2 separate regions of the Homo sapiens genome follow, and region 1 is linked to region 2. The links come from fine-mapping of genetic effects on gene expression. A gene starts in region 2. The other region holds a variant in brackets. All regions are shown on one strand. Distances are between the middles of the regions.

Region 1 (5,376 bases), 70 kb after region 2:
GTTTATATTTTTTGAAATTGAGAAATATAATCTTAGAAGATGGTAAAGCTGGTTTTTTTTTTAAGTTGGCAAAGAATATGCAGTTAAATTCAGGCATGGAGAGAAAATTGCTTTGAAAGGAAGATTTTTTGCATTGACTTTTGTGTGTGACATTAGCTGTCTGTTTTGGAAAATCTAAGAGCAATATCTGATTATCTATGCTTTCCATCCCTAAAACCACCAACACATAGAGGCTACTGAATCTCCCGAAGGGCCTCGGTGATGGGCCTGGGCAGGAGGAGGCCCCTGCAGCCTGTGGGTGGTGCATGGGCAGCATCTCCTCTCTGCAGTGTCCTGCAGCAGCAGTGCAATGTGATTGATTTCAGAAATTTAAAAAATATTTGCTGACACTGCACTCCAGCCTGGGCGACAGAGCGAGACTCCGTCTCAAAAAAAAAAATAATAATAATAATTTCCTGGGATAGGTAGGGGAAACGGAAATTTACATGATTGCCAACCTGACTACTGATATTTTCCAAGGAAGATTACCTCTGTGAGGGCCTTTTTGCTTTAAATGTCACCTTCATGGTGTTCAGCAATGTTCACTGAGCGTATGACCTGGCTTTGTGCACCGAGAAAACTGCCCAAAATAACAGGTGCCACAGCTTGGTCACAAGACAGACACAGGGCCAGTAAGGTGCTGTCAGTTGTACCCCCTATGCTAAGCTGTGAAATTCTAATCCCCCGGCCCCACTTTCTAACCGTGGAAATGTTGGGTTGTGCCATATCCTGGTATGAATTTTCTTTGTGGAATGATAGGCCCATAGAGTTAAGTTTTCTCTACTGCTGACTTTTACTCACTTAATTTTTACTCAAGTTCTTAAACTTGAGTGTGCATCTGAATCCCCTGGAAAGCTTGTTAAAACGCAGATTGCTGGGCTCTGGCCCCAGAGTTTCTGATTAGGTGGGTCTGAGGTGGGGCCTGAAAATGGGCATTTTTTTTTTCTTTTTTTAAAAGTTTTAGGGTACATGTGCACAATGTGCAGGTTAGTTACATATGTATACATGTGTCATGCTGGTGTGCTGCACCCATTAACTCGTCATTTAGCATTAGGTATATCTCCTAATGCTATCCCTCCCCCCTCCCCCCATCCCACAACAGTCCCCGAAGTGTGATGTTCCCCTTCCTGTGTCCATGTGTTCTCATTGTTCAATTCCCACCTATGAGTGAGAACATGCGGTGTATGGTTTTTTGTCCTTTCGATAGTTTGCTGAGAATGATGGTTTCCAGTTTCATCCACGTCCCTAAGTTCCCAAGGGATGCTGATGCCTCTGGTTTGGAGTCTGCACTTTGAGAACTCTCGCTCTAGGCAAAGCTGGCAAATTTGTCTCAGGTAGGGGCACACCTGCTATCTTCCAGGTAGGCACTGTTCCTCTACTCTTCTGCGTCATCTCAGCTTCATTTCTCCCTCGGGGTACCAATGCTCTGAAACCTCCTGCTGTGGACTGAAACATTCTCTTTGGTTAATTCAAACTGAAATATTCTATTTGGCATCAACTAACATTTGCATATTTCTGGGGGACCAGCCACTTTGCTGCAAGGTGCTTGTATTTGTTATTTAATCTCTACCACAACCCTGTGAGGTCAATTGTGAAGTCCCCCTTTAATGAGACTCAAGAATTCAATGACATTTTCAAGGTCAAGCACGATGCCAGGTCTCAGGCTTGGAGCCTCTGGTACTGGGCCACTGGTCTTCCTTCTCTCTAGCTTCAACATCCTTCTGAAGAGCAATTGGGTCCTTTGTGAGGATGCTTCGAGGTTGGACCAAGTAAATGAATATCTGTTTGGTAACATTGTTGACACTGCTGTATCGAGCTGCTCTAAGAAAGGGAAACATTTTTGGTTCAGAGGACATTCACAGCACTGTGCTTGTTGGAGTATTTGTACCATTGCCTCTTCCAACAGTTACATTTTGCTCTTCTTTCCCTCAAGAGTAGAAGAGGGTGGAGAAGAGGAAATGATTATAATTCATTCCTTTCCCCTCCCTGCCAATTTCTCACAATACCCTTATTGGGAGGCCAAGGCAGGTGGATCACTTGAGGTCAGGAGTTCAAGACCAGCCTGGCCAACATGGCGAAACCCTGTCTCTACCAAAAATACAAAAATTAGCCGGGCGCGGTGGCAGGTGCCTGTTGTCCCAGCTACTCAGGAGACTGTGGGAGGAGAATCGCTTGAACCTGGGAGGCGGAGGTTGCAGTGAGCTGAGGTCGTGCCGCTGCACTCTAGCCTGGGTGACAGAATGAGACTCCGTCTCTTTAAAAAAAAAAAAAAAAAAAAAAGGCACATTTGAAGTTCTGAGTGTGAAGTGTGCTTCAGGATAGTAAATGGAAATGGCAAAAGAAAATATCCAGTGGAAATCTTTGCCATCTTTGGGATTCTCTTTAGTTTTTGCTCATTTTTGCCTATCCTGCAAGGGTAACAGAAAGCTCTGAGATTTGGAGGTCAGACAAACCTGTCTGGCTCCTGCCCTGATTCTGCTCCTTGAGGGTTCTAGTGCAGGGAGGACCTCTGGCAAGTTGGAGGATTGTACCTCTCTGAGCTAGAGAACTGGCAGAAGGACAAAATGTAATTTACTCCACTGTAAGCCCTTGGAAAGCAGGTACCTTGTCTGTTTGGCACCCCAGTGGCAGCCCATGCCCAGCAGCTGTCATTGGTTGGGGGTGGGTGGTGGGTGAGTGCACCCTAGTGGGTAGTTGGAGGATTAAATGAGATAGTATGCAAATAGAGGAGAGTAGGTAAGTTCCCCCTCCATCACTGGATGTTTTTGCTACTTCCCCTACTCTTTTGTTTGTTTGTTTGAGATGGAGTTTTGCTTTTGTTGTCCAGGCTAGGTGCAACGGTGCAATCTCAACACACTGTGACCTCCGCTTCCCGGGTTCAAGCGATTCTCCTGCCTCAGCCTCCTGAGTAGCTGGGATTACAAGCGTCCACCACCACGCCTGGCTAATTTTTTGTATTTTAGTAGAGATGGGGTTTCACCATGTTGG[T/C]CAGGCTGGTCTCGAACTCCTGACCTCAGGTGATCCGCCCGCCTCGGCCTCCCAGAGTGCTGGGATTACAGGCGTGAGCCACCGTGCCCGGCCCCCTCCTCTCTTTTTATCTCTCTGCTCTTTAGTTAGCTGGCCTCATGATTCCCATTTTTATTTTGTTTACCTTTTCTGTTAAAGAAATTTTTGCCCAGGCTACCCTTTAGGCAGGGAGGAGAACTTCCCCCTACCTCTTCTTTCTAAGCTACAACATCAAAAAAAAAAAAAAAAAAATTAGCTAATGGCTCTCCCCTTCCAGGCAAATTTCTAGGATTAAACGACTTGATGCTTTTTTGCTCTGATCCAGGCCCACCTTTCCAGCCCACATATAGTAATAATTATGGTTTTATGTTTTTAGGGCTCCACTTTTGTTTGATTTATCTCCCCATGAGGATGTAAGCCTCTTAGGAATGGGGATCATGATTCTTCCTGACTTTTAAAATAACAACTGTTTCTGGCTCCTATTTGGTTTATGCTCCATCATGTAATTTGCTGTCATTCTTGTATTCAGCTGATTTATCCTTAATCCTGTATCTCGGTTGTTTGCTTTTTTATCCCTAAGTGCCCTACCTTGCAGAGCCCTGGCGTCATATAACTATTTATTAAATAAGCTTCACGGAACCTCAACGGGGACTCTGTTCACATGTACCAGCAGTGTGCTCCTTCTCCTTTCTGCATCCAAGACATGATCCTCAGTAGGAATTGAGAACAAAACCCAGCTCTTTAGCCAAAAATGGTTTCTGAGGTTCGGTTTTCATAAATTCAGAAAGGGGGCTTTTTTCCCCTCCATCTGGCCATAGGATATTGTTGGCCTCTCTTTTATTTATTTTATTTTATTTTTATTTTTATTTTTATTTTTTGAGATGGAATCTCACTCTGTCGCCCAGACTGGGGTGCAGTGGCATGATCTCGGCTCACTGTAACCTCTGCCTCCTGGGTTCAAGCAATTCTCCTGCCTCAGCCCCCTGAGTAGCTGGGATTACAGGTGTGCGCCACCATGCTTGGCTAATTTTTTTGTATTTTTAGTAGAGATGAGTTTTCACCATGTTGACCAGGCTGGTCTCGAACTCCTGACCTCAGATGATCCACCTGCCTCAGCCTCCAAAGTACTGAGATTACAGGCATGAGCCATCGTGTCCAGCCGGCCTCTCTTTTAGAAGACTCTGTCCCATTGTCCTTTAAGGGCATGTCACTTCCCTGGAGGTCAAAATCATGTCATACTAGTTTTTGCAATCCACAGCTCCTTGCACAATTCCTGGCCCAGGGAGTGGGTACATCATCAATGTGTGAGGAACAGACTGCCATGAAATAGTGTAAAAAATCCACATAGTACACTTGTGAGAAAAGAGATAAGAACCAGAATTTTCCAAGCAAAGGGATAGAGAGCTACAAGGTGGAATTCAGCAGGCTCACACCTATTGGGTGTTAGAGAGATGAACTTAGATCACATTTATTTAAACATCTCTGAGTGCAGTATTTTTAAAGATCACACAAGAATAAAACTGTAGCACTGAACTTTTCTTTAAGTGTTGAAGTGAAGGAAATGAAGAACTCAGCACGGACCCTGCTTAGACTCCGGCAGAACAGGTGGTCTTGACATGACGTCGCTCCAACATGCACGCAACTTGCCTTTTATTCTCTCAGCTCTTTGTGCCACTAGTACATGGTCACCTGGGCATTTCTTTAGAAAGGGTGCAGAGACTTTCATTTCGTGAAAATATAGATGTCCCAGGGAAAAATAATAATCCAACTGGTATAAGTTTATATCAAACCATATGGAAGTGATTTTTTCTGGTTAGTCATTTTCACGGGGATTAGAGAGTAGAGAAAAGTCAAAGAACCAGGGATTCCCAAGGACACACTTGGCCTGGTCAATATTACTAGGATTGGCCCAGATGCCACCAAATCCTTTTTTCTTCCTACTTATTGAAAACCCTGTTAAATTTGATATGTGTAATATCTTTTCTCTAAAATTTTAGCCTTGCAAATAAAATTTTGCATAACATTTTTATTGACAAGACATTGTGTCACATTAAGGCTTTTGAAGGTGATGAAATGGACATGACATCTTCACCTTAGCAAGTAACACTGAATTAAAGAAGTTTGTATTTCAGAGTGGAAGAGTACAGTATAAAATATTTGAATTCAGACACTTTAGAGCTTGGACCCTGTCAGAAGCTTGGAAATACTTCGATTTTAAAGCTGCTACTCTTCCATTTACCTCACTCCAGGAAATCCTTTTAGAAATCATACTCTTGAGGGAAGAAGACCTAGGGGATAGAGCATGACTCCACTGAGAAATTTAATTTAGGA
Region 2 (5,376 bases):
CCAAGTGAATAAGTGGGCTACGATGGCCCATTCTTAATTAGATGACTGCAGAAAAACTCTTAATTAAAAAAGCAAAAATATAATTTTTCCCTCTCTTGCAGAATATAAAATTAGTCATAAAGAAGAATACTTCCCAAATTTGGACTAAGAAACATAGAAATGTCATCCTCTAAACTTTTTATTAATAATTTTATGATTAATAAAGATTTAAAATGTAGTATCTATTGAATATAAAGATTATATTATAATAAAGCAATATTAAGATAATAAAAAGCAAAATAAGCTATTATACATAACACGAATTTAGAAAAAGAGAATTTTTTTTTTTTTTTGAGATCAGGTCTTGCTCTGTTACTAGGGTAGTGGCTTGATCATAGCTCACTGCAGCCTCAAACTCCTGGGCTCAAGCAATCCTCCTACCTCAACCTCCCAGTAGCTAGAACTACAGGTTTGTGCCACCATGCCTAGCTAATTAAAATTTTTTTTTTTTTTGGTAGAGATGAGGTCTCCATTGCCCAGGCTCGTTTTGAACTCCTGGCTTCAAGCAATCCTCCTGTTTTGGCCTCTCAAAGCACTGGGATAACAAGTGTGAGCCATTATGCCCAGCCAATAAATATTTTAATAAAAATTACAAAATATATAGATATCAAATACTATTTTCTAATGAAAATTGTAAATAATTTTTTTCTATTTAATGAACTATAGTTTTGTGCCTAGAAAAAGGTCTACTTGTTAATTTCTTTTAGTCTGAGTCTACAATAAGAATTAAATACAGTAAACATAAACTTTAAGCTGTATCCAAATTTTATGTATTTTTTCTCAAGTACACTTAAAATTGAGGTTAGTTAGTATCCTATGATCTCTGCACTGGAATTCTTACTACAATTGTCCACCAGAAGAAGAAACTAGGGAATTATAACTAAATTATCCAAAAGGGTTAAATTTTTTTTAAAAAAGCTATAAGTAAAAAGTTTCCATAGCTTTCACTGAAGTTGCTTTCTTGTAAAAATTATTTTGTTATGTAATTATGAAATATAACAGAATATCAGAGTACCAAAAATAATATTCCACCAATATGCCCATCACCAGTATTAAAACACTTGTTATATTTGCTTTGGTTTTCTTTTTAAAAATAAATGTTGTATATCATTCTCAAACATATTTTTATACTTTTAGAACAGACTAGAGATCTATAAACCTCATAGTTTTGTATTTTTGTGTTTTAAAGTCCACATACACGGTGTGTTTTATAAATAGTCTCTGCTCTATGTCTACTTGCTGTTGAAGACTGTATGGGGTGAATAAGAAACATCGAGTGTCTAGGCCTTTTAGCATTATTCCACTTACATTGAGAGAACTAAAGAAATAATAACCATAACTCTTGCTAGAACAGTTTACAGCCTAGTTAAAATGCCAAAATGAAGACGTGGTAAGCGTTTTTATATTATTTTACCTACCATCTGGGTAGAATGGAGTAATTAAGAAACCTGTCTCTGCATAGTTCTGAATAAAATAGTTTAAAACGTCAATTTGATACGTTCTAAATTTGGAAGATCAAATCATTTAACATTAAATCAGGAGCCAATTTCAGAATATAGTCATTGCTCATGGAGGACTCTTACCCGACTTTTTGGGAGCTCACTGGTTGTTCCTTTAGAGACTCGTAAGAGTAAACATTCACATAAATAATAACGGTTTAAGAGTTGGTTAGTCGTCATGGCTACAGGGATAGGTCAAGTTTTTAGGTAAGGTGACTGGTATACTTCCATGAGATAGGGCAGAACATTACTAGTTCTACCACGGACAGCGAGTATTTATACACATATTGTCATTCTCCTGGAAATTTACAAACCTACCCCAGTAAGTACAAAGTTAATGAATGCTAAAAATAAAATATAAACTGTATAGAACTCAGTGGTCGATTTTAATAATGAGTTAGATGCCGCAGAATGTAAGATGTAGGTAAACGGACGCAAAAATCCTTGTTTTACAATGTCTGCATCTCCGTAGTACTGACATTTGAAAACTTTACTTTGCACATACTTATTTTAAGTACGATAAATGAAAGCGCTGTGGACTAGGAACAAGAGACAAATTGCTTTCTTGTCCAAATTGTCTCAGACCCTGTATTTTCTTAGTCATAGCCGTTTGTTAAGTAGGCATTTGGTAGACTATTGCATGGAGGATTGCGAGAGCAAGATATTACTATCTGCGGTGGAATGCTCGAATTTCTTCTCTCAGCAAGGATAATGGGTAGCACAGTCTGACTTTAGACCCATCCAGTGGTTCAGACTTATAGATAGTATCCCATACTTTACCGCAATTCCTTGTTGAATTAAGGCTTGCACTTCGAATACAGACTACACACTTCTGGGTCTGTCTTGTACCACATTGTCTGGCATAGGCGCTCACTGTATATTTGTTGAATGTTAAAGTTCTGTGCACCAAAACCGTGCACTTTGCATCGATTATCTGCGAAAAGCATGGTACACTAAAACTAGATCTTGAAGAATTCCCATTTGATCATGAATAGAGGTAATCCACGTTTAAAATACCAGGTGTTGCGTAATCTCTACTTGGAGATTAGCCACCCCGTGCGCCCAGGTGAAAGATATCATTCTTCCGTGCGATCCGAAGTGCCGTGGAAGTTAGTGCCCTAGCCCAGTCCAGGAGGAAGGGGCGTCGTGCCGGCGGTTTTAAGCTCGGAAGGGGCAGGGGAATGAGCCCAGGGACCCCAGCGGGGCGCAGGTAGGAGGCTGTGCGCTCGCCGGGTGCGCTCCGGCCCCGATTCCCAGCGCAGCCAGTAAGTGGCGCTGGGCCTCGGGTTTGGCGGCCCGGAGGAGCGGGCTGCGGATTACCTGCAGCAGCGGGGAGCCGCCGAGCTCCTCCCCGCCCGCCCCCACACCCCACCCCCACCGCTGCACTAACCCCGGCTCAGCTGGCTCCGCGCACTTGCTCGGAGGAGCCGGGGCCGAGCGGACCGCCGGCTGCAGGCAGCGAGCGCGGCTGGGCTGCGGGGCTGCTTCCCCGCGTCCTCCGGGCCCGGGCCGCCCTCCTCCCGCACAGTGCGGAGCAGGGAGGCCCCGCGCCTCGACCACCCGCGCCCGAGCGTCCGCGCCTCCTCCTCCGCTCTGCAGGCGGGGACCGCCCGGCGCTCGGCACCCGGCAGCGCGGCCCCCTCCAGCCCCCGGCTCCCGGCAGCAGAAGCAGAAGGCAGCGCCAGGGGCCGCCGCCGCCGCCGAGCTCCGCGGGGCTCGGGAGCCGGCCCCGGCGAGGAGGCGCGGAACCATGGCCGATGGGGGCGAGGGCGAAGACGAGATCCAGTTCCTGCGAACTGTAAGCGCCGTGCGTCGCGTGTGCTGTCAGGGGAAGGGGGCGTCAGGGCATCCACTAGCGGGGTCCGGGCAGAGTGACAGCGGGCAGCGGGGACTCGCGGGCGGGGCGAGGGGGTGCCCCCTGAGGATGCGGGAGGAGCGGGCATCACCAAGTGTGTGCAGGTGTGCGTGTTGGGGCGAGGGAAGGCAAGGGCGCGTGTCTGTGCGCGCGTGTGGAAAGCTAGAGGATGGAGCGCGGCTAGCCGGCGGCAGGCGCCCGGGCTCGGACCCGGGGCACCGGGGACAGGAGCGTCGGAGCTGCGGGAACCGGGAGAGGAGGGGACGGCCGGTCCGGCCTGCCTGGTGGCACGGCTGGGACCTCCCGGGCGGCCGGGGGCAGGGTGCAGAGCAGGGTGGCCCGTGGGGGCGCGGGGAGCGGCGGGAACTCGGGCTGTTTCTGGGAATACCGCCGCCGGGAGGTTTCTTGGGCTTTCGGGCTGGACCCGCGCGTTGTCACGGAGCGAAGACGTTGGTTCGCTTACTCCGTGTAGCGTGCGGCGCAGCTGACCGGGGGCGGGGGTGATGGTGCAGGACGCTGCGCGGAGGTTTCCCCCAAGTCAAGGTGCTGCGAAAGCGGAGGAGGAGTCGCCTCCGTGGTCCCCGCGGTTCCCGGGGCTGGTGCCATCCGTGGTGGTGCTGTGACCGCTTGCAAAGCGTGGAAGGCATGGGAAGCGAGCGTGTGTTTGCGTGTGTGCGCGCGCGCGGGTGGTGGTGGGGAGAACATCGTGAACGTGTCGTTCTCTAAATGCTGGCTTATTGCATGCCAAGTGAAGCAAAGTGTGTGTGTGTAAGTGTAAGGGCAGGGTGGCTGCCCGGGAAAGGTTGGCTCCACACTAATACAATTCTTTCTCCTTAAGTACCTCTTGGCACTGCTCCTTCCTTTCTCTCATTTGTTCGAACACTGCAGATACTTCCCAGGCTGAGGCATTGCACACCTCCAAGCTGGGACTGGAGAGCCTCTCCAGAAAAGAAAATGCCCTAACTTCCTGCTAATAATAACCTAGTTAGCATCCTTTCAGTCGTTCCTTCTCCACTTCTGTCCTCCTTCCCGAAGGATGTTCCCTTGCAGGATTCCCCAGACTTCCCCAACCTAGAACTGCAGCTTCTGCTGGTACTTCTTTCCTCAGCAGTACAAAAACAAAACAAAACAAAACAAACAAACAAACAAAACCACTTCCCGGTTACAGTTACCTATAATCACAGAAAATCGTAGATACGGTGGAATTTTGGAATATTAACTTTTAGGTGTGAAAATAGTCTTGATGTATTTGGGTACTAAACATATGAAAACAGCGAATTTGCAAAGGAACGTTGTAAACGACTGTCTCTTTCTCTTTTGTGCATTAAACGGACTGGGAGAAAGCTTTGGGAAGGATAAAAACCCAGGGTCCACATCAGATGACAACCTAATAGTAATCCAGTCTAATAGCTGCAGGTTATGCACCATTGCATATGCTTTTTGAAGTACTGTTGGCCCAAGACCGGGCTTGGAAGAGCCTCTTCACTAATACCTTGGTCACGGTGTATAAACCTGCTAGTAATACAGTTGTCTTTTTCATAGAAAATAGACTATAAGGGTTTTTTTTTTTTTAAGTAATTAACACCACATTAGATTTTTCTCAAAACTAAGGACTATTTTATTCAGGTGGACAAATACGGTTGCTGTATAATTTTTCAATCAATTCGTATCAAACTCTGTGGGGTTAAAACTAGCTGGGACATTTTGGTAGGCTTCATGCACTCAAGGGCTTCCTGCGGGCTTAACTGTTAAGCCGAGCTCATGGAGGTGGTGTTATCAGAATGCTTAATGGGGACCGAGGGAACGTGCTGGCTGATGAGGTTCTGCACATATCAAGTAATGTCAACTCTGTGCCACTCAGCAGCTGCCTGTCAGCTAGAGCAGCACCTTTGATAAGTGGGTCCTGGGTAGAGATCTGGCAGTCCCAGGCTGGGATTTTTCTTTTAATAAAACATCCGTAGGTTGCTGTGCTGACGACAAATG

Which allele goes with the higher level. Alleles are on the strand shown, and positions count from the first base shown. SD is a standard deviation of normalised expression in the study named.
For the expression in esophagus mucosa of the gene that starts at base 2,951 in region 2, C is the high allele of the variant in region 1 and T is the other (small effect, 0.21 SD a copy in GTEx).

What was found. PIP is the estimated chance that this variant, and not a neighbour inherited with it, causes the effect. A credible set is the group of variants that fine-mapping cannot tell apart.
Region 1: its variant is the best candidate, but not a certain one, in a credible set for the expression of RYR2 in esophagus mucosa (GTEx, PIP 0.88).

The regions. Positions count from the first base shown.
Region 1 is chr1:237,109,294-237,114,669 of GRCh38, forward strand. The region is part of intron 1 of RYR2 (ryanodine receptor 2); the gene reads left to right. Among named protein-coding and RNA genes, the nearest start is that of RYR2, 70 kb to the left of the region's middle. The variant T/C (reference allele first, on the strand shown) is at 3,028.
Region 2 is chr1:237,039,234-237,044,609 of GRCh38, forward strand. RYR2 (ryanodine receptor 2) reads left to right here and starts at 2,951. Exons shown (of 105, transcript NM_001035.3): 1 at 2,951-3,336. The coding sequence starts at 3,289.